Linked DNA regions of Homo sapiens: region 2 is reported to be linked to region 1. Evidence: microRNA targets listed by miRTarBase, many of them from high-throughput screens and not tested one by one. Region 1 holds a microRNA gene; the other region holds the end of a gene's coding sequence.
The links. Region 1 holds the annotated microRNA hsa-miR-3972 (CUGCCAGCCCCGUUCCAGGGCA, at 5,267-5,288, shown strand). A microRNA usually pairs through its seed, bases 2 to 8, with sites in the 3' UTR of a target mRNA and lowers its output. Matches are read on the target gene's strand: a 7mer-m8 pairs with bases 2 to 8, a 7mer-A1 pairs with bases 2 to 7 and ends in A, and an 8mer does both.

Region 2: the mRNA of DNAJA1 is a reported target of hsa-miR-3972. Seed matches in the 3' UTR shown: 7mer-m8 at 7,152-7,158 and 7mer-A1 at 6,795-6,801.

The regions. Positions count from the first base shown.
Region 1 is chr1:17,272,682-17,282,223 of GRCh38, forward strand. MIR3972 (microRNA 3972) reads left to right here and starts at 5,208; the gene lies at 5,208-5,294. It overlaps PADI3 (peptidyl arginine deiminase 3), which reads left to right. Exons shown (of 16, transcript NM_016233.2): 10 at 659-766; 11 at 1,954-2,105; 12 at 3,838-3,982; 13 at 4,093-4,195; 14 at 7,669-7,748; 15 at 7,990-8,115. RefSeq lists an enhancer at 1,316-1,817.
Region 2 is chr9:33,036,543-33,046,084 of GRCh38, reverse strand. DNAJA1 (DnaJ heat shock protein family (Hsp40) member A1) reads right to left here. Exons shown (of 9, transcript NM_001539.4): 7 at 9,396-9,511; 8 at 8,970-9,070; 9 at 6,178-7,400. The coding sequence ends at 7,182. It overlaps SMU1 (SMU1 DNA replication regulator and spliceosomal factor), which reads left to right. Exons shown (of 12, transcript NM_018225.3): 12 at 1-4,320. Among named protein-coding and RNA genes, the nearest start is that of DNAJA1, 16 kb to the right of the region's middle. RefSeq lists a silencer at 1,427-1,746 and an enhancer at 1,601-2,102.

The DNA.
Region 1 (9,542 bases):
GAGATGGGGTCTTGCCATGTTGCCCAGGGTTGTCTCAAACTCCTGGCCTCAAGCAATCCTCCCGCCTCACCCTCCCAAAGTGCTGGGATTATAGGTGTGAGCCACCGTGCCCGGACTGGATAAATAATTAGACCTCTTAGTTCCTCATTTTCCTCATCTGTCACATGGGATAATTATGGTGCCCACGCCCAGGCATGTCATGAGGATGAATGGAGTTAATGTTTATAAAGAGTTTAGGGCAGGACCTGGATGTGAAGTTCATTCACACTGGGCCATCTTTTCCTCCAGAACCAGAGGGGTCAGGACTGACCTGGGCACATTTATGGATCCAACTCAGGCCACTGTGAGTGCTTCTCTGTGTCCACCTGCCTTGGCCCAGTACTCACAGGGACACCCCCAAGGTCATGTCCATGTTCTCGTTCACCTCCGGCCTCTGTCTTGCTGTGTGACCTTAGACAAGTGCACCCCCTCCTTGAGCCTCCAGCCCCTCCTCCAGTCAGCAGGCACCCTGACCTCGGTCCTGTCCGCCTCCAAGCACAAAACATGCTTGGGCCAGGGGACTTGGTGAGCAGTCTGCCCCACAGGGCTCAGAGCCGAGCCAGCAGGGGCAGCTGTTGACTGTCACAGCTGTGCGTCTCTCGCCTCTCCTCACTTGCAGGATGAGATGGAGCTGGGCTACGTTCAGGCGCCGCACAAGACCCTCCCGGTGGTCTTTGACTCCCCAAGGAATGGGGAACTGCAGGATTTCCCTTACAAAAGAATCCTGGTGAGTGGTCCCGGCCGCAGCCCACCCCTGAGAGCTGAGAGGCCTTACCCCAGGGGCCACACCGGGGTGTGGGGTACAGAGGGCAGCAGTGGGAACCGTGCTCTTTAGGGATGAGGGTAGGGTTGCCAGATAAAATGCAGGGATGCCCAGTCAAATGTGAATTTCAGACAAGCAACAGGTTAACTTTTTGGTGTAAGTACGTCCCAAATATTGCATGGGATATACTTACACTAAAAAAGTTGTCGTTTATCTAAAATTCAAAGTTAATTGGGCATCCTGTATTTTTATTTACTGAATCTGGCAGCCCTAAATAGGGGAGGCAGGATGGTGCACCTGTTCAGAGCACAAGCTTTAGGGTCAGACCAACCCTGTTCCGTTACTTACATGCTGTGTGATGTTGCGTGAGTTACTACCGCTCTCTGAGCCTCAGTTTCCTCATCAGTAAAAATGACATTTTGGCCCTGGCCTCACAGGGGTTTGTGAAGCATCTCATCATCACAGTACCTGCATGGAGGGAGTGTGTGTGCGCGCACCACTATTAGCTAGTATCATTATTTTAAGAAAAAGGATAACAGGGAAGGTGATGATTGCTAACGAGGACCTCTTGAGAAAACAAGAGTGACTTGCCTGGTGCCGTAAAGAACAAGAGACCCCTCCAACCCCCTCACTGATCACACAGATGCTAGGAGCTCTCTCTCCTGACCCTTGATGTTGTCGAAGTTGCTTCTGAGAGATAGCCCTGGGGAGGTCTCCCCTTCTCTAGAGTTCAAAGACAGAGGCCCAGAGGGCCATCAGCAGCCTCTTGGTTCCCACAATTGGCCACTTGAGCTGCTACTTGCCCTTGGGCTGAACTTGCAGGAAGGCTGTGTAGGTAAGGGGATGGAGTGGCCATGGCCTCAGGCTCCATGTCCGATGGGGAGTGCAGGAGCAACCGGAGCGCCCCCTGCTGTCTTGCCGTGATAAGGCAGCAGGGCCAGAGAGTCCGAGCACTTCCCGACTTTGCCTGCTATGCGTGCATGAAATATTGACTGGGTCAGATCCCCCACCCACCGCCAATGACTCTGTATTTCCACCTGAAGAATGGATGGCCTTTCCCACCCTGTCTTGAAGGAGCTCAAAGCCCAGCAAGTTGGTTCAGGCCCTTCCTGGTACCCTCCACCCCCGCCTGACTTGGTTTCCCTCTCCAGGGTCCAGATTTTGGTTACGTGACTCGGGAACCACGCGACAGGTCTGTGAGTGGCCTGGACTCCTTTGGGAACCTGGAGGTCAGCCCTCCAGTGGTGGCCAATGGGAAAGAGTACCCCCTGGGGAGGATCCTCATTGGGGGCAACCTGCCTGGGTGAGAGAGAGACAGGGAATGGAGTTCCTGGGGTGGAGGCTGAGGGTTGGGGGTGGTGATGATGGTGGAGCAGGGGCCATTGCACTCCTTGAAGAGAGCCAGAAGCAAGGAATGATGAAATTATACTCCCGGATGTGCTGGGGTTGGTGGGTGTTCACCAGACACAGTCCACACTTACCTCGGGGACTCTGAAACCAGAGAGAGCAGAGACCTAAGAGATCATTCAGTCCAACACTTTCATTTTACAAGTGGGCCCAGAGAGGGTAAGTGAGTCACATAGAAAGCAAAGTTATAACTAGACTCAAGTTTTCTGATTCTGAAAATAAATAGATGATACTAGTAACAGTCAATTAATAGTAACAGAAGAAGAGTGGGCATGGTGGTTCATGCCGTAATCCCAGCACTTTGGGAGGCCAAGGCAGGCGGATCATGAGATCAGGAGATCGAGACCATCCTGGCTAACATGGTGAAACTCCGTCTCTACTAAAAAAAAAAAAAAAATTAGCCAGGCGTGGTGGCAGGCGCCTGTAGTCCCAGCTACTCAGGAGGCTGAGGCAGGAGAATGGCATGAACCCAGGAGGTGGAGCTTGCAGTGAGCTGAGATCATGCCACTGCACTCCAGCCTGGGCGACAGAGCGAGACTCCGTCTCAAAAAAAAAAAAAAAAAAAAAAAGTAACAAAGAAAAAGTTTCCATTCCCAACAGTCCTGGGAGAAAATGCATTTAGGTCAAAGCTTGTTCATACTACCATGTAAATGACTAATATAAGATCTTTTCCTGAGAGCAAGAGAAGTGAGGTACAAGACATGCTAAGTGAAATGACAATAACATACAGAGAGAGTAACAAATGATGTGTTGTTCAGTAGTGACACAGGGGTGCTGATGGAAAAGGAATCCTATCATATTGGTTACTTGCTGTGGACTAGACCAAGACATTGAGCTAACCAAATGCAACAAAGCTGTTAGAACAGACTTGGGATCAAATAATGAATGAATCCAGAGTCAAGCTTTGGAAGGGACTACTGCCCTCAAATACATAATCCCATTGAAAGAGGAAGCTGGACCATGCCCTTAGATACATTTTCGTAAAAATTGAACATGGGGGTGAAATCTGTCTCTTGGAGAATAAGAACCTGGTGTGAGGGTGGTTCTGAAGATTTTCCTGGATGGTGGGACCTGGTAGGTCATTGCCCTGGTGTGACTGACCTGTCCTGAGTCTGCCTCATGCAGAACTCACCCTAAGTGGAATTTTAAAATATACGTATCTGGCTGGGTGCAGTGGCTCATCCCTGTAATCCCAGCACTTTGTGAGGCTGAGGCGGGCAGATCACTTGAGGTCAGGAGTTCGAGACCAGCCTGGCCAACATGGTGAAACCCCATCTCTAGTAAAAATACAGAAAAATTAGCCTGGCCTGGTGGTGCACGCCTGTAATCCCAGTTGCTTGGGAGGCTGAGGCAGGAGAATCCCTTGAACCTGGGAGGCGGAAGTTGCAATGAGGCGAGATCACGCCACTGCACTCCAGCCTGAGTGACAGAGTGAGATTCCATCTCAAAAATAAATAAATAAATAAAATGAAATATACATATTTATTACTTTCCTGTTTATAAAAGTAATGCATGTTTTTTTGTTTTTTAAAAATCAGATATTGCAGGAATGCTAAACTCTTGTCATTTTATTTCTGCATGGAGTCTTTTTAGTTAAGCAACTTTTTTTTTAACCTCGTGGGTCCCAGGTCAAGTGGCCGCAGGGTCACCCAGGTGGTGCGGGACTTCCTCCATGCCCAGAAGGTGCAGCCCCCCGTGGAGCTCTTTGTGGACTGGTTGGCCGTGGGCCATGTGGATGAGTTTCTGAGCTTTGTCCCTGCCCCCGATGGGAAGGTAAGAACTTCGTGCATGACGTGTCTTTCCCTGGCATCTGGGGCAAGAACTGAGCTCCAGGGCGCCATGCCAAGGCAGGAGGCTCAGCTGAATCTGTTCTCTGCACGCAGGGCTTCCGGATGCTCCTGGCCAGCCCTGGGGCCTGCTTCAAGCTCTTCCAGGAAAAGCAGAAGTGTGGCCACGGGAGGGCCCTCCTGTTCCAGGGGGTTGTTGGTGGGTAACAGTGCCGTGTCCCTCCTTGCGGCTTGCCTGCCCCTTACCCAAATTAAGACACATCATGGCTTGAGAGGGGGAGGGCAAGTTTTAAAGCAGGGGTGTGTCCCCAAATTCAGGGCTTCTCACTCCTGCCCCTGCACACCTTGCTTCACCAGACACCACTGCCCACAGCTGGGGCCGAGCTGAGGTGGGAAGCGGGGTGATAGAAGGTGGACATGGACTGAGCGGGGACATAGTGGCTTCCCAGGCAGGTGACCAGTGCAGTCACGGCGTGGAGCTTTAATGTTCTGCAGTCACTATCCTGAAATCTCCCTTTTTTTTTTTTCCTTTTTGAGACGGAGTTTCACTCTTGTTGCCCAGGCTGGAGTGCAATGGCGTGATCTCCACTCACCGCAACCTCCGCCTCCCAAGTTCAAGCGATTCTCCTGCCTCAGCCTCCTGAGTAGCTGGGATTACAGGCATGCGCCACCACGCCCGGCTAATTTTGTGTTTTTAGTAGAGACGGGGGTTTCTCCATGTTGGTCAGGCTGGTCTCGAACTCCTGACCTCAGGTGATCAGCCCGCCTCGGCCTCTCAAAGTGCTGGGATTACAGGCGTGAGCCACCACACCTGGCTGCCCTGAAATCTTAATTCTGTTTTGTGAGGTCTGATGGATCAGTGGAGCATCTACGGGGCTTGGAGCCTCTGCTCAGGCACAGTCCTGTCTCCCAGCCTCCCTGCCTCCCTGGCACAGATTCTCTGCTGCCTACTTCTGTGCTCCCTGGAGCCTCAGTGCAAGGCCTCCCCCATCTCTGTCACTGTCCTGAGATGCTGCAGCACTCTGCCCCCAGCAGGAGCCTGGGCATGGGGAGGGCTGGGGTTGGGCACATGTGCCACTCAGCATCTTCATGGCATCAGTCGTCCCTGCCCTGCAAGGGCATTTGGTGGGCAACTTGGGAGGGGTAAGTGTCTCACCCAGGCTTGCTCAGGTACCCAGCACATACCCAGAGGCCACAATACTCTGGAGGTCGCCCATTTGCCTTGGCTTGGGGTGGCAGTCCTGTGGGAATGAGAGATGCCAAACTGGACCTGCCAGCCCCGTTCCAGGGCACAGCATGTGGGTCTCATAGCAGAGGCATGCCCAAGCACAGCCCCCTGGGAGCTAGGCCTCCGCTGTGAGGCCCACAGGGTGGGCCCTGACACCAGCAAGGGACTGTCCAGCCCCATGCAAGTCCCCGGCAAAGCGCAATGTGAAATAGCAAATAAAAACCACCCTGACAAGTCAGGAGAGAGACTCGGGGACAAAGAAACAACTTTATACTGTAGCACTTTTAATGGTACTCTTTTGTCTGCTCTTTAAACAAGGAGCTGGCATTTTCTTTTCTTCTTTTTTGAGACAGGGTCTATCAGCCAGGCTGGAGTGCAGTGACATGATCTCAGCTCACTGCAGCCTCGACCTCCCAGACTTAAGCGAGTCTCCCACCGCAGCCTTGCGAGTAGCTAGGACCACAGGCATGCACCACCACGCCTGGCTAATTTTTTGTATTTTTTGTAGAGATGGAGTCTCACCGTGTTGCCCAGGCTGGTCTTGAACTCCTGAGCTCAAGTGATCTGTCTGTCTTGGCCTCCCAAAGTATGGGATTACAGGTGTGAACTACTGTGTCTGGCCAGGGCCCACTTTTTTTTGTTTTGTTTTTTGTTTTGCACTGGAAGAATTTTGAGAGAGAGAGAGCTGGCTGGACTGGAGTCATCTGGCAAGCTTGCTGGAAGCGTTCTCAAATTCACTCCCTTTCCAGCCCCACTGAGACTGCATGAATCCCAGAGGATCCTCCCTTTCTCAGTGACCCCAGAGGTCCCAGGGCAAAGACCCTTTGACACGCAGGATCATAGATTTTCTTGGTCCCATGGCCTCAGGGAAGGCAGATAGCATCCTAGACCAAACACAGCTCAGAGAGAAAAAAAGCTCCTGTAGAACTTAGACGCCCCCAAGTATAATAATTTCCAAAGTCCCCTTGCTCTCTGTTTGCTAGCGTTAACTTCTTCCAACACAACCCTGGAGCCTTAGCAATAAAATGGAAGAGAAATAGTCTTTCTTGACCCTGTTGCTCCCAAACGCACCCTAACTAGACTCCGGTGAACCTAGAGTAAGTCTTAGAAATCCTTAAATCCAAATTATGTACCAGGCAGGGAGAAATGCCACCTTCATCTTTCCTGGGAGAACTTATGGTGAGCAAGACCCAGGAATGGGTTGAGCAGAGTTATTCCAACCTGCCCAGCTGGGAGGGAGCGTGGGAGAATTCACAGATGGCAGGCCACAAGCAGCCACCCCACCCTCGAGGGCTGACACTCAGGCAGTGACTGTGGCGATTAATTACATAGACACAGAGGCCAGACACAGAGGCCAGAGCACTGATTAGACACCTCAGTGCGCCAGGCCTCACGCTGTGTGCATCACACGTGTTATCTCATTTGATCTCACGAGAGATCAAATGGGATGACTCTCACCCACCTTTATTCCCAAGAATGTGAGGCTCAGAGAGGGGATGTCACTGGCCCAGAGGCCTCAGCAAGATTGCAGTGGAGCTGGGACTGGACCCCAGCTTCCTGCCTTAAACTGGGGTGAAGCGGGCGTTAGACCTGCAGATGGGTCAGGGGAGCCCTCTCCTTTCCCTTGGTCAAGGCTTGAGGCCCTGTGCGAGCCCTGGGCTTGGGTTTGAATCACAAGCCCCCACATATCCTACCTGTGTGACCTTTGGCAAGTCTTCTGACCTCTCTGAGCCTCAGTTTTCTCATCTGTAAAGTGGGGATCATAATGCATACCTTGTGGGGGTCACCGTGAGGGTTAAATGAGATGCTGAACCTGGGCACTCCCCTCGGGGCCTGCTCATGGTAAGCGCTTACTAAGTAGCAGCCATGAGGATTGTGTGCCATTGACTCTAGCCTCCGCTTCCCTGTCCAGTCTCATCTGCATGGGCACACCATCAGGCTGAGAAAATCTGGACCCCTGGGAGGTCCCCATTTCACGCAGTCACCCCCTGAAGGGCAGGATTGGGGCTGGATGGTGTCTGAATCCCAGGACTGGCTGGTTCGCTGCTCAGTGAACCTATAAAACCTGACTGATGGTGGGTGGGTGGGCAGCAACTGACCCAGCTCCCCGCTAAGCCAAAGCAAGAGGATTCCTCATCCAGTGCCCTCGGGCAGTTGTACATTTCCAGTGACAGGCGTTACCACTTCCAGTGAACTCAAATAAAGGTCTCAGTTCATTCCACTGTGGCAACCAGACCCTCCCACTCCTTATACCCCAAGATGTGCACAGTGGCCAAGGCAAGCTCAGACAGGTGGAACCCACCCAAGGCCTGGGAAAGTCAGAGGCTGCTGACTCGGCAAGACCATTAGCTGTGAACTTGGCTCCTGCCTGTCTGCTTCCCTAAGCAGGTGGTCCTCACGTTGGTGCTGTCCCTGTCCTTCTCTTTCATCTCTCTCCTTCACAGATGATGAGCAGGTCAAGACCATCTCCATCAACCAGGTGCTCTCCAATAAAGACCTCATCAACTACAATAAGTTTGTGCAGGTACAAGGGCTGTGGTGTACCTGTGGGCTGTGATTTGGGAGTAGGCGGGGCTGGAGGCAAGGATGGGATACAGACATCTGAGGCTAACTGTTCATGAAAGCTCAGGTTAGAACAGGCCCAGACAGAGGGGTCCCAACACCCTCTTTTGACCCAGAAGAAGTGAGGGGAGCGACAGGATGCCTTGGTGCCCCCAAAACACACTGGCAAGGTGTCCCCAACTCTGGCCCTCCCCTGCCCCCAGAGCTGCATCGACTGGAACCGTGAGGTGCTGAAGCGGGAGCTGGGCCTGGCAGAGTGTGACATCATTGACATCCCACAGCTCTTCAAGACCGAGAGGAAAAAAGCAACGGCCTTCTTCCCTGACTTGGTGAGGGCACTACCCATGACTCCTTTGCCAAATCAGGCTGCAAACCTCTAAGCTCGAGAGAGGAAAAATGTCTGGTCACAGTCATATTTAGGATTGTGGTGGCCAGTGGGGGTGGCAGGGAGAATCAGGGGTCCTATGGTGCTCCTCAGAAGGGCTTCTAGCTGGCTGACCACCATGGTCCCTGTGGAATGCTTGCTGGCCAAGCCCTGGCCCAAGGGGCATCAGGGAAGGGGTCCACTTGACATTTGTGGAGTGAATGAATGATTGCATGAGGTCACGTGTGCAAAGCACATGGCATCAGCTGGGAACCCAGATGCTCATTCTGCTCTCTTCCTCCCAGCTTGTGGCTCTTCATCCATCCCACATGTATTTAGGGTGTCCTGTGGCAGATGCAGAGATGATTAAGAATGCCCCCTGCTCTCAAGGGACTTTCAGTCTAATCGGTTGAGAGGGAAACTCTTCCCTTCTCTGAGGACATGTCCCAGTGATCTATTTTGTAGGATAAGGCGATGTGGCAGTTTGGAGGTGAGACAAAGCACTTCCAGCCTAAGAGGTAGAACTGGAGATCCAGGAAGTCTTCATGGAAGAAGTGGCTTTTGACTGAGCCTTGAGGGCTTTGCCTCTGATGCTTGTAAATCTTTTTTTCTTTTTTTCTTTTTTTTTTTTTGAGACGGAGTCTCACTCTGTTGCCCAGGCTGGAGGGCAGTGGCACAATCTCACTCACTGCAACCTCAGCCTCCAGGGTTCAAGCGATTCTCCTGCCTCAGCCTCCTGAGTAGCTGGGATTGTGGGATTGCAGGCGTGCACCACCACGCCCGGCTAATTTCTGTATTTTTAGTAGAGATGGAGTTTTGCCATGTTGGCCAGGCTGGTCTTGAGCTCCTGACCTCCGGTGATCCACCAGCCTCGGCCTCCCAAAGTGCTGGGATTACAGGCGGAAGCCACCGTGCTTGGCCTGCTTCTAAATCTTGAGCTTGCCTTTGAAACACCTGGACAGGTGGGGCCCCACCCCAGCGGTCCTGATTCAGCAGGTCTAAAGCACGGCCCGAGGCACTGCTGCCGCGCTAACAAACACCCAGGTGGTGCTGATGCTGCCTTTTAGAGGAACACAGTTTGAGTAGCACTGCTATAGGTCACCCAGCTCCCCTCTCCACTCCTCCCCACCTCATCCCCTAAAAGAACTCAATTTGCCCATTGTCAGAGCCTTGTGGGGAACCTGTCCACACCACCATTGCTTCATGCCCCGCTTTTTCCTTCCTCTTTTCAGGCAACATTTTGCCCTCCGCTTGCAAAGCCTCTTTTCACTCCCCTTCCTTCCTGTTCGAGGCTATCTTGTAATTATATATGTGCCCCAAGAAGTTTGTGCAATGATTCAGGTTCTTGTGTTCGCAAGAGACAGAGTCCTACTGAAGCCAGCTTCAGCCAGA
Region 2 (9,542 bases), not on the chromosome of region 1:
ATATTTTGCATATGGATGTCTGTTTCACGTTTCAACTGAAGATGTATAGAGCACCTCTGATGATGAGGAAGATACCATGCTAGGCAGTACTTTCAAGAACGTGAGTTCTTATTTCTGCAGGCCTTTTGTGCCCCCTTTTAAATGTTAGCATTTATTAGGTACAAACTAGTGGGGAAGGTTTTTTTAAAAAGTTTTGCAGTCTTGTAATTTACCTTTTTAAAAAATTTATTTTATTTTTCTGAGATGGAGTCTTGCTCTGTTGCCCAGGCTGGAGTGCAGTGGTGCCATCTCAGCTAACTGCAACTTCCACTTCCCAGGTTCAAGCGATTCTCCTGCCTTAGCCTCCCAAGTAGCTGGGACTACAGGCGCATGCCAGCATGCCTGGCTAATTTTTGTATTTTTAGTAGAGCGGGGGTTTTGCCATGTTGGCCAGGCTGGTCTTGAACTCCTGACCTCAGGTGATCCGCCTGCCCTGGCCTCCCAAAGTGCTGGGATTACAGGCATGAGCCACTGCGCCCAGCCTTGTAATTTACCTTTGATGGTGACCTGAAATGCAGTATGATCCTATATGTGGCACGTAGTAATGTTCAGTGTTTGCTGAATTAATTCTGGGCAGCACTAAGAAATCCCTCTTTCCCAGTCATATTCTATAACACATTTCCCATTTGCCACAAAACCTGCAGCTTTTTGGTCCAGGTAATGACATTTGCTGCCATTTTGATGATTTAAAAATGGTCGTGGGAGTTGAACATAGTCATGAATTCAGGATTCCTGAGCATGTAGACAGTCATCCCAGTGGAAAGACACGTTCACTTAAGAGAAGTTTAAGTTAGAGGAAACAGTTTATGCTAAAAAAATTTTTAGAAAAGTCCTTGAGAATTTTTGATTTAGTCTTGACCTCATGAAGCTGGTAGTTATGATGTGCATAGTTTGTATCACCGTTTATGAAGATGGAGAATCTAGTCAGCACGTGTTGGTTTATTCTAGGAATTTTTAGGGAACACTTCTGTTGCTGGCACCAGGTGATGAATATGGTTAAAAAAAGACTCGTTTCTGCCTAAACATAGGGAAGAAGAGCAAATTAAAAGGAGTAATTAAAACTGATAAAAGCTCAAGTTACCTTTGTGATGATGAGGCGGGCAGTTAACGCGAAAGGGTTGGGAAAGGCTTCCTGGAGGGACTAGGGGGCGGTCTAAGCACAGGGAACCTAACCGGGGACTCCAGTGTGGCACAGCGGCAAGGTATGTGCTGGGCAAAATGATAGGTGTCTTGGGAGACCAGGCAAAGAGAGCTGGATTAGGAGCCGTTAAGTATATATTTTTCTTCTTTTTAAATAAAATAATGCACTGGGTGAACATGTAAACGCTAAGTTGAAAATCTGCCTTTCCCAGGTAACCCTTGTTAATCTTTCTACAACTTCATTTCGTACAAACCTGAAAAACACACTGATTTTGTCTTTAAATGGGCACACGCTGCTTACACTCCTCGGCGCCTAGCCTTTCTGAAGCCCCACGCGGCCGTCCCTCCAGCATTGAAGGCTGGGGCAGCCCAGCTCCCCTCCAGCGCCCTTACAGCCAGACCGCGGCGGGGTCGGGCCGCGCACGCGCAGGGCGGACGGCCGGATCTGGGGCGCCGCTGCTCCGGGTGGTCGGAGGTAGGAGTCCCATCTTGGGTCCAGGGCCGGTAGAGCCCCTTACCGGGGGTAGGGAGACTGCGCACCCGCTAGAGCCAACTGTCAGGGCCTGCAGACGTCGGGTGACGTCACTGTTACAAAATTGGCGGTCACATCGTCTTAAGGGCCGGTGGCAGCGGCTGCGCGAACGGGAGTTGGCTGCCGGGAATCAGTGCTCACTTCCTTCTGAATTGGGCGTGTGCAGTCGGTTCCTAGGGAAGTGCTCTGCTGCAGCCACCAGATTTAACGGATGCTGCTCTCTAGCACTTAACATAGAAGCTAAACTACCTGGCGTTAAAATTAATTCCATGAGCATAAGGACATTTGTCCTATCCCCTATTCTGCTGTTGAATTAATGACTGGAAAACATTGCGCGGAGGTATTTGGGAGTAGTATGGCTTTTTTTTTTTTTTTTTTTTTAACAGCAAATGGTATAAATCTCAGGTACAATTCAGTATCTTCTTCACCAGTTGTTTTTTTTCAGCATGTATTATTACTACCACTAACGGCCTCTGTTGAGCCCTTCCTTGCTATGTAAGCAGCCATATTTAATTCTCAGAACAATGTAATGAGGGTGCGCAAATGCACATGAAGAAACAGGTTTCCAGACGTGAGGCACCTAACTCAGTCCAACTTGCACGAAGCTCGCATTGAAAACCAGATGTGACTCCGAAGCTAGGTTTTTTTTCTCTCTTGCCTCACTCTCAATATTGCTGTCAGTTCCTCCTCAATCTTTAGGTTTGGGCAGGGACAAAGAATACATGGATTGTTCCTCCACATGCTGCAAACACATTCACCTAAGCAGAGCACAGGTAGTGAGATGAGTAGAGAGAACTGAATTAGAGGATTCTGGATGTCAGTCTTTGCTGTCACTTCTTTTGGCTTGTGCTAGAACAGTGGTTCTTACAAGTGTCACGTGATAGACACATTCTAAGGTCCTATCCCAGACCTACAGAATCAGAAATTGGTGGTGGGGCCCAGCAAGCGTGCTCAAATTTGAGAGCAGGTAGACTACAGGGTAGTTTCCGCATATACAAAAGGTGTTTTAATTCTTGCTGTCAGTCTCAGAAGTTTCATGCTGAGATAACCAAATTTAAATGATAAAGGTGCAAGACTGACTCTTAAAATCACATTTTTTCAAATTGCCATAGCTTGCTAGTGTTCTCATTCACTGTGCTTTTACAGCTTCATTTTCCACTATTTTAAGAGAAGAAATTGCTATGAAGTGTATGTCCAAGTGAGGAAGTTCCCTGGTCTGAGGTTGTTTAAAACTTACAATAGGCCGGGCACGGTGGCTCAAGCCTGTAATCCCAGCACTTTGGGAGGCCGAGGTGGGTGGATCACGAGGTCAGGAGTTCAAGACCACCCTGGCCAACATGGTGACACCCTGTCTCTACTAAGGATACAAAATTAGCCGGGCATGGTGGCACACGCCTGTAGTCCCAGCTACCTAGGAGGCTGAGGCAGGAGAATAGCTGGAACCCGGGAGGCAGAGGTTGCAGTGAGCTGAGACTGTGCCACTGCACTCCAGCCTGGGTGACAGAGCAAGACTTGGTCTCAAAAACAAAAAACAAAAAAACCAAACTTGGAATAGCAAGGGCTGCCCATTATTTAACCTTCCACGGCAATTTTAACAGTGGTATTCTGTTCCAAGTGGTTAATATTAAATCCATGTGTCAGTGTTGGTGGCTTTCAACCTTGGCTGCGCATAATCATTTTGATGCTTAGGCTACACCCAGCCGAGTTATACAGAATCCCTGGAGGGTGGGACCTGATGAGTGTTTTAATGTTTCCCGGGTAATTCCAATGGTAGCCAAGGTTAAGAACCAGTACCGTACGTACAAAAAAGTTGAGAAGCTAATTTCACGTACAGAAAATTTGCCACTGTTCCAAGAGCACTCTCAAGCGACATAATTGGCCTCTACTCCTATTCCCTACAAGTATGAATGGGCAGGAGAAGCATCACAGAGAAAGCAGAGTTAGTGCTGGAACTTGTATTTTTGTGGATGATGACCTTGGTTAATGTTTTTTCATAGGCTCTGTTTCATAGGCTTTGTTTTTTCATAGGCTCTCCCTCATTACATTGTTCTGAGAATTAAATATGGCTGCTTACATAGTAATGAAGGGTTCAACAGAGGCTGTTAGTGGTAGTAATAATACAAGCTGAAAAACTACACAGACAAACCTATCAGTTTCTGCCTCTTCAGGATATAACTATTAGGTTAGTGCAAAAGTAATTGCGGTTTTTGCCATTAAAAGTAATGGCACATTACTTTTGCACCAACCGACCTAATATGACTTTCTTTTAGTGTTCTTAGGATTTTTAATTGTAAAACATGTAACAAATTTTCCTAAACAATTGTGCAATTCAGTGGCATTATTTACGATGTTACGCAACCACTATTGTATTTCCAAAATGTCATCACCCTAAACAGAAGCCCTGTAACATTGTCAATTAACTTCTCCTTCCCTTCCCCTCAGCCTTTGGTACTGTTTCTGCCTCAATGCATTTGTCTAAGTTTAGTTCATATAAGTGAAATTATACAATACTTGTCCTTTTTTATCTGGCTTATTTCATTTAGCATGTTTTAAAGGTTCATCCATGTATCAAACAGTAAAGTGCTTCATATTTGGGGGAAGTATAAAAAGTATTCCTTTTAATGGCTGTGTATTTCACAGTGTATGTACACATGTATATTGAGAATTGAGAGATTTGTAGGTACACATTAACCATTTGTTGGTGGACAGTCAGGTTTCCACTTTGGGCTGTTGAGAATGCACAGTAAACACTGACCATACGAGTTTTTTTTTTTTTTTTTTTTTTTTGAGACAGTCTCCCTCTTGTCGCCCAGGCTGGAGTACAATGATACAATCTTGGTTCGCTGCAACCTCCACCTCCTGGGTTCAAGCGTTTCTCCTGCCTCAGCCTCCCAAGTAGCTGGGATTATAGGCGCCCACCACCACACCCGGCTAATTTTTGTCTTTTTAGTGGAGACGGGGTTTCACCACGTTGGCCAGGCTGGTCTTCAACTCCTGACCTTAGGTGATCAGCCCGCCTAGGCTGCCCAAAGTGCTGAGATTAGAGGTATGAGCCACCGCGCCCGGCCTTCATTCGTTTTTAATTCCTTTTGTATAGTCATCCCTCAGTATCCATGGGGGTACTGGTTCCAGGACTTTCCATGGATACCAGAATCCGAGGGTACTCAAGTCCCTGATATAAAACAAGATGGTTATTTGCATATAACCTACACATCCTGCGTAATTTAGCCATCTAGCTCTAGGTTACTGGTAATACCTAATACAATGTAAGTACTATGTAAACAGCTGTTATACTTTTAACAGCTGAAGTCTGTACATGGTCAGGAAACAATTTTTCCCAATTGTTTTTGATCCAAAGTTGACTAAATCCATGGATGTGAAACCCAAAAAGGAGGGCCAGCTCTGGGTCATGTGGTAATTCCATGTTTAGCTTTTTAAGCAGCTGCCAGACTTTTCTACAGCAACTGCAACATTTTACATTACCACCAACAAAGTACAGAGGGTTCCAATTTCTCCATATTCTTATTTTCCATTTTTTGGATTAGAGCTATCCTATTAGGTATGAAGTGGTATCTGGTTTTTATGTGCATTTCCCTTATGACTGACAAACGCTGAAAACCTTGTGTGAGATTTGTAAAAATTTTTAAGCGTCCTATAAACAATGCTTTTTTTTTTTTTTTTTTTTTTTTGAGACGGAGTCTTGCTGTCACCCAGGCTGGAGCGCAATGGTGCAATCTTGGTTCACTGCAACCTCCGGACTGGGTTTGAGCAATTCTGCCTCAGCCTCCCGAGTAGCTGGGACTACAGGTGAGTGCTACCACACCTGGCTAATTTTTGTACTTTTAGTAAAGTACACCACGTTTTCACCAAGTTGGCCAGGCTGGTCTCAAACTCCTGACCTCAGGTGATCTGCCTGCCTTGTCCTCCCAAAGTGCTGGGATCACAGGTGTGAGCCACTGCCACCATGCCTGGCCTAAACAATGCTCTTAAATGCATTAAAATACAGGTTCAGAGATTTTTAGAATTTGTACATAAACCCAGTGAAAAGTGAAATCTGTCACAAAGCACTTTTTTGAACACCGATCAATTATACTTTCCTGAACATCTGCTTCACATCTCCAACTTTAGGGTAGCTGTGGGTGGCTGGCACAGACTAAAAGGAAGTTGACAAACACTGATGGTTTGGGAACCTTATTTTTTAAAGTTTTTCTCCTTTTTAAACTTGTATTCTTTATGAGAACTTGTTCTCTCATGCTCACTCCAATGTTTGCAGTTTTCTAAGTCCCCTTCTTCTTGGCTCATTACCCAGTCCTCCACTTTTACTCTCCATCCTATTTAATATTATTTAACTATAGTTCAATAGTATTTTTGTATCACTCATTCAGACTAGCTAAAATAAAGCTATGTATCTTAGTTAAAAGCCAAAATTTGATGATCTGGGAAAAAAAAGCCTGTAGTGACACACATTGGAGATGCTTTGTAATTAGTATATTAAGGAGACAATACATTTCAAGAATTGCTTAAATTCTGATACCCAGATTTAAGCATGTGAACATATGAGACTTTTAAACATACAATTAAAGCTATTCATCATAATTTGCTATACTACCAACATAACTTTGGAGCGAAAGTCAAATGGTTTAAAGTAATCCTGTAACATACCTAAAGAACACCTTCCTATATTACGCATGCAAATTCTCCACGTAAAGGTCTTTTCACTTTAATTTCTGTTACCCAGCTCTGAAGTCACTACTTGGGCTTATCATGGTCCACAGACAAGGAGGGGAGCAAATGACCAGGACTGGTCAAGATTATATATATATATGTATATATATATGAATGGCACAGCAGAAGGAAACACAATTCTGGAAGTGCAAGCCTTCAAGAAGCAGCATATTATGATAAACCCCTCCTACAGAAAGGTATCATTTTTATCACTGATACCACAGGATAAATTATATATTACGCCATCTTCAAGTAACAGCTGAGGCAACAGAATAAATGCAGAGGCATTACAATGAATCCCACTTAATATAAAGAACTATACAGACCAACACTTCTCTACAAAATTTTTTTTTCCTCATTGCCAGTTAAATACAGAGTTTTACTTTCATAGCTTAACAATGAAGGGTCATACACTGAAGCCAATACATATACCTAGCATTTCAGTCTAAGCTTGTCCACGTACATAGCTGAAGTCAATTACAAGGTTTGGCCTAGAAATGCTAGGGGAACTTCTTTGTAGTTTTTACAGGTATTAAACTTCATCTTGCACACTGAAGTCATCATACATACAGGGCAAAATCAGAGCTTTTATATTTGCGTTTATTCTTCATTTAACTTTTTAAAACACTACTATAGTTTATTAAAACAAAAACAAGAGCAAGTAGTGAGCATATTATGATTACAGTCCTTCACTCATTCACTACTGCACATTAAATGCCAGCAGTGAGTGTTATTCACTGGCCCATTAAGAGGTCTGACACTGAACACCACCTCTGGGATGATGTTCATCATCCTCATATGCTTCTCCATTGTAGTGGCGCCGTCTTTCCTGATTTGGATCAAAGTCCACCAGTTCTACTTGGTCCATCTCATCAGTCTCTTCCACTTCCTTCCTCTCGGGTAGGAGTTTTTCCAGCAAAGACAGTTTATCAGGAGAGAGAAAGCCATTCTCAGGAAAGTTTACCTTCAAAAGAAACTTTCACTGTTCAATCTGATTTCATCATTAGCTCCCTTAGAGTATCATGGACCCATTTTCCCCAGAAAAACACATGTAAACACGTAATATTTAGGTGAATCTGCCAATCTCAGGTTAGAACAGGCTCTAAAAAGGCACAGTGCATAGCACACTCTGAACTAGAGTTCAAGGATTATGACCAGAAGTCAGGCTTTATTAAAAATGATTGTATTAAATAAAACTGCACTTTAACAACCATTGTTCTATCCAGCAAACTGACTTTTTAATACCAAAACCCATCCTGCAACAGCCTAACCCTTCTTACGACATATTTAAACAAAGCTATTCTTACTCTCAAAAGGGTAGTTCTTCCTTACCAAAGATGTTTTTAGGCCAGGCGCGGTGGCTCATACAATTGGGATTACAAATCCCAACACTTTGGGAAGCTGAGATGGGCAGATCACCTGAGGTCAAGAGTTTGAGACCAGCCTGGCCAATATGGTGAAACCCCATCTCTACTAAAAAGCCCAGCGTGGTGGCGGGCACCTGTATTCCCAGCTACTCAGGAGGCTGAGGCAGGAGAACTGCTTGAACCCAGGAGGTGGAGGTTACAGTGATCCAGGATCGCACCACTGCACTCCACCTTGGGTGACAGAACAAGACTCCCGTCTCAAAAAGGAAAAAAAAAAAAAAAAGTTTTAATTAATATTTTTATGGTGACAGGCCAATTTAAGACTCAGGAAAATGACTGGATTGCTTTATACCTATTAACAAATCAAGCATTACACTATTTTGCCAAGAAATCTGCAATTATTATAAAGCACCTCTCAACTTTAAGATGCCAGTTACAACCTTTCATTAGTAAAATACCCACTTGTCCCACACACCCTTCCCACAACCTATCTTTAAATATCCAATTAATGATGCAAAAAACCCCATCCTCAACTTGTTAACAAAGAATGCTCAACATGACAGAAGTAGTTATTAGGTAAATTTTCTTTTTTCTTTTTTTGAGACAGGGTCTCATTCTGTCACCCAGGTTGAAGTACAGTGACACGATCTTGATTCACTGCAGCCTTGACCACCTAGGCTCAAGCAATCCTCCCACCTCAGCCTCCCGAGTAGCTGGGACTACAGGTGTGTGCCACCATGCCTGGCTAATTTTTGTACTTTTTGTAGAGATGGGGTTTTGCCATGTTGCCCAGGCTGGCCTTTAACTCCTGAGCTCAAGCAATCCACCTGTCTTGGCCTCCCAAAGCACTGGGATTATAGGTGTGTGCCAGTGGCACGTGGCCAGATCCATATATTTCTTGCTGTGGAAAAATGTAAGTTTCAGGTTCTGAGGCATTCAGAAATTTTAATTTTTTTTTTTTTTTGTTTTTTTAAAGAGACAGGGTTTCACTATGTTGCCCAGGCTGTTCTCAAAACTCCAGGGCTCAAGGGATCCTCCTGCCTCAGCCTCTCAAAATGCGGGGATTACAGGCATGAGCTACTTGCACCTGGCTGAAATTTTACTTTTTTATCAGATTTTAGTAAGCCAATTGTTCTCAAGTATTCTTAAAGTACATTACAGCTTACCTTAAATTCGATGATTAGGCGACCCTTTTCATATGGTCTACGATAAATTGGCATGCCTTCATTTAGTACACACTTGATATCTCCATGCTTGACAATCTGACCTAAAAACATTGAAGCCAAGTTCTTCCTTAAGTATGGTCACATTTTTATGAGGCAGGGAATATAAAGAACAGAGCACTGTCCTAGCTCATTGGCAGGAGTAAAACTTACGTGGCAAAGCAATCCTGTTACCTTTCACTTATGGGTTTTCCAAGGGCTGACAAGAGAGCCAAGACCTTATAACTTCATCTAAGCCCAGAGAAGGATATGTAACCGAGAAAGAAAAACAATGGGTTTCCCTCAGTGCCTATACTACACTTTGTTAACAGGAGACAAGGAAAATACTAGAATAGAAAAGAGAAGTTTAAGCTTGCCTAGTTCCCATACCTGGATGAGAGGTGATGACGATGGTTCGGTTGTCAAGAGTAGATATTGGCTTCTGGAAGCCACACAGTGCTTCAACGAGCTGTATGTCCATACACATGAAAAGGTCTTCTCCTCGTCTGCATAAAATATGACACATATTTATATTTT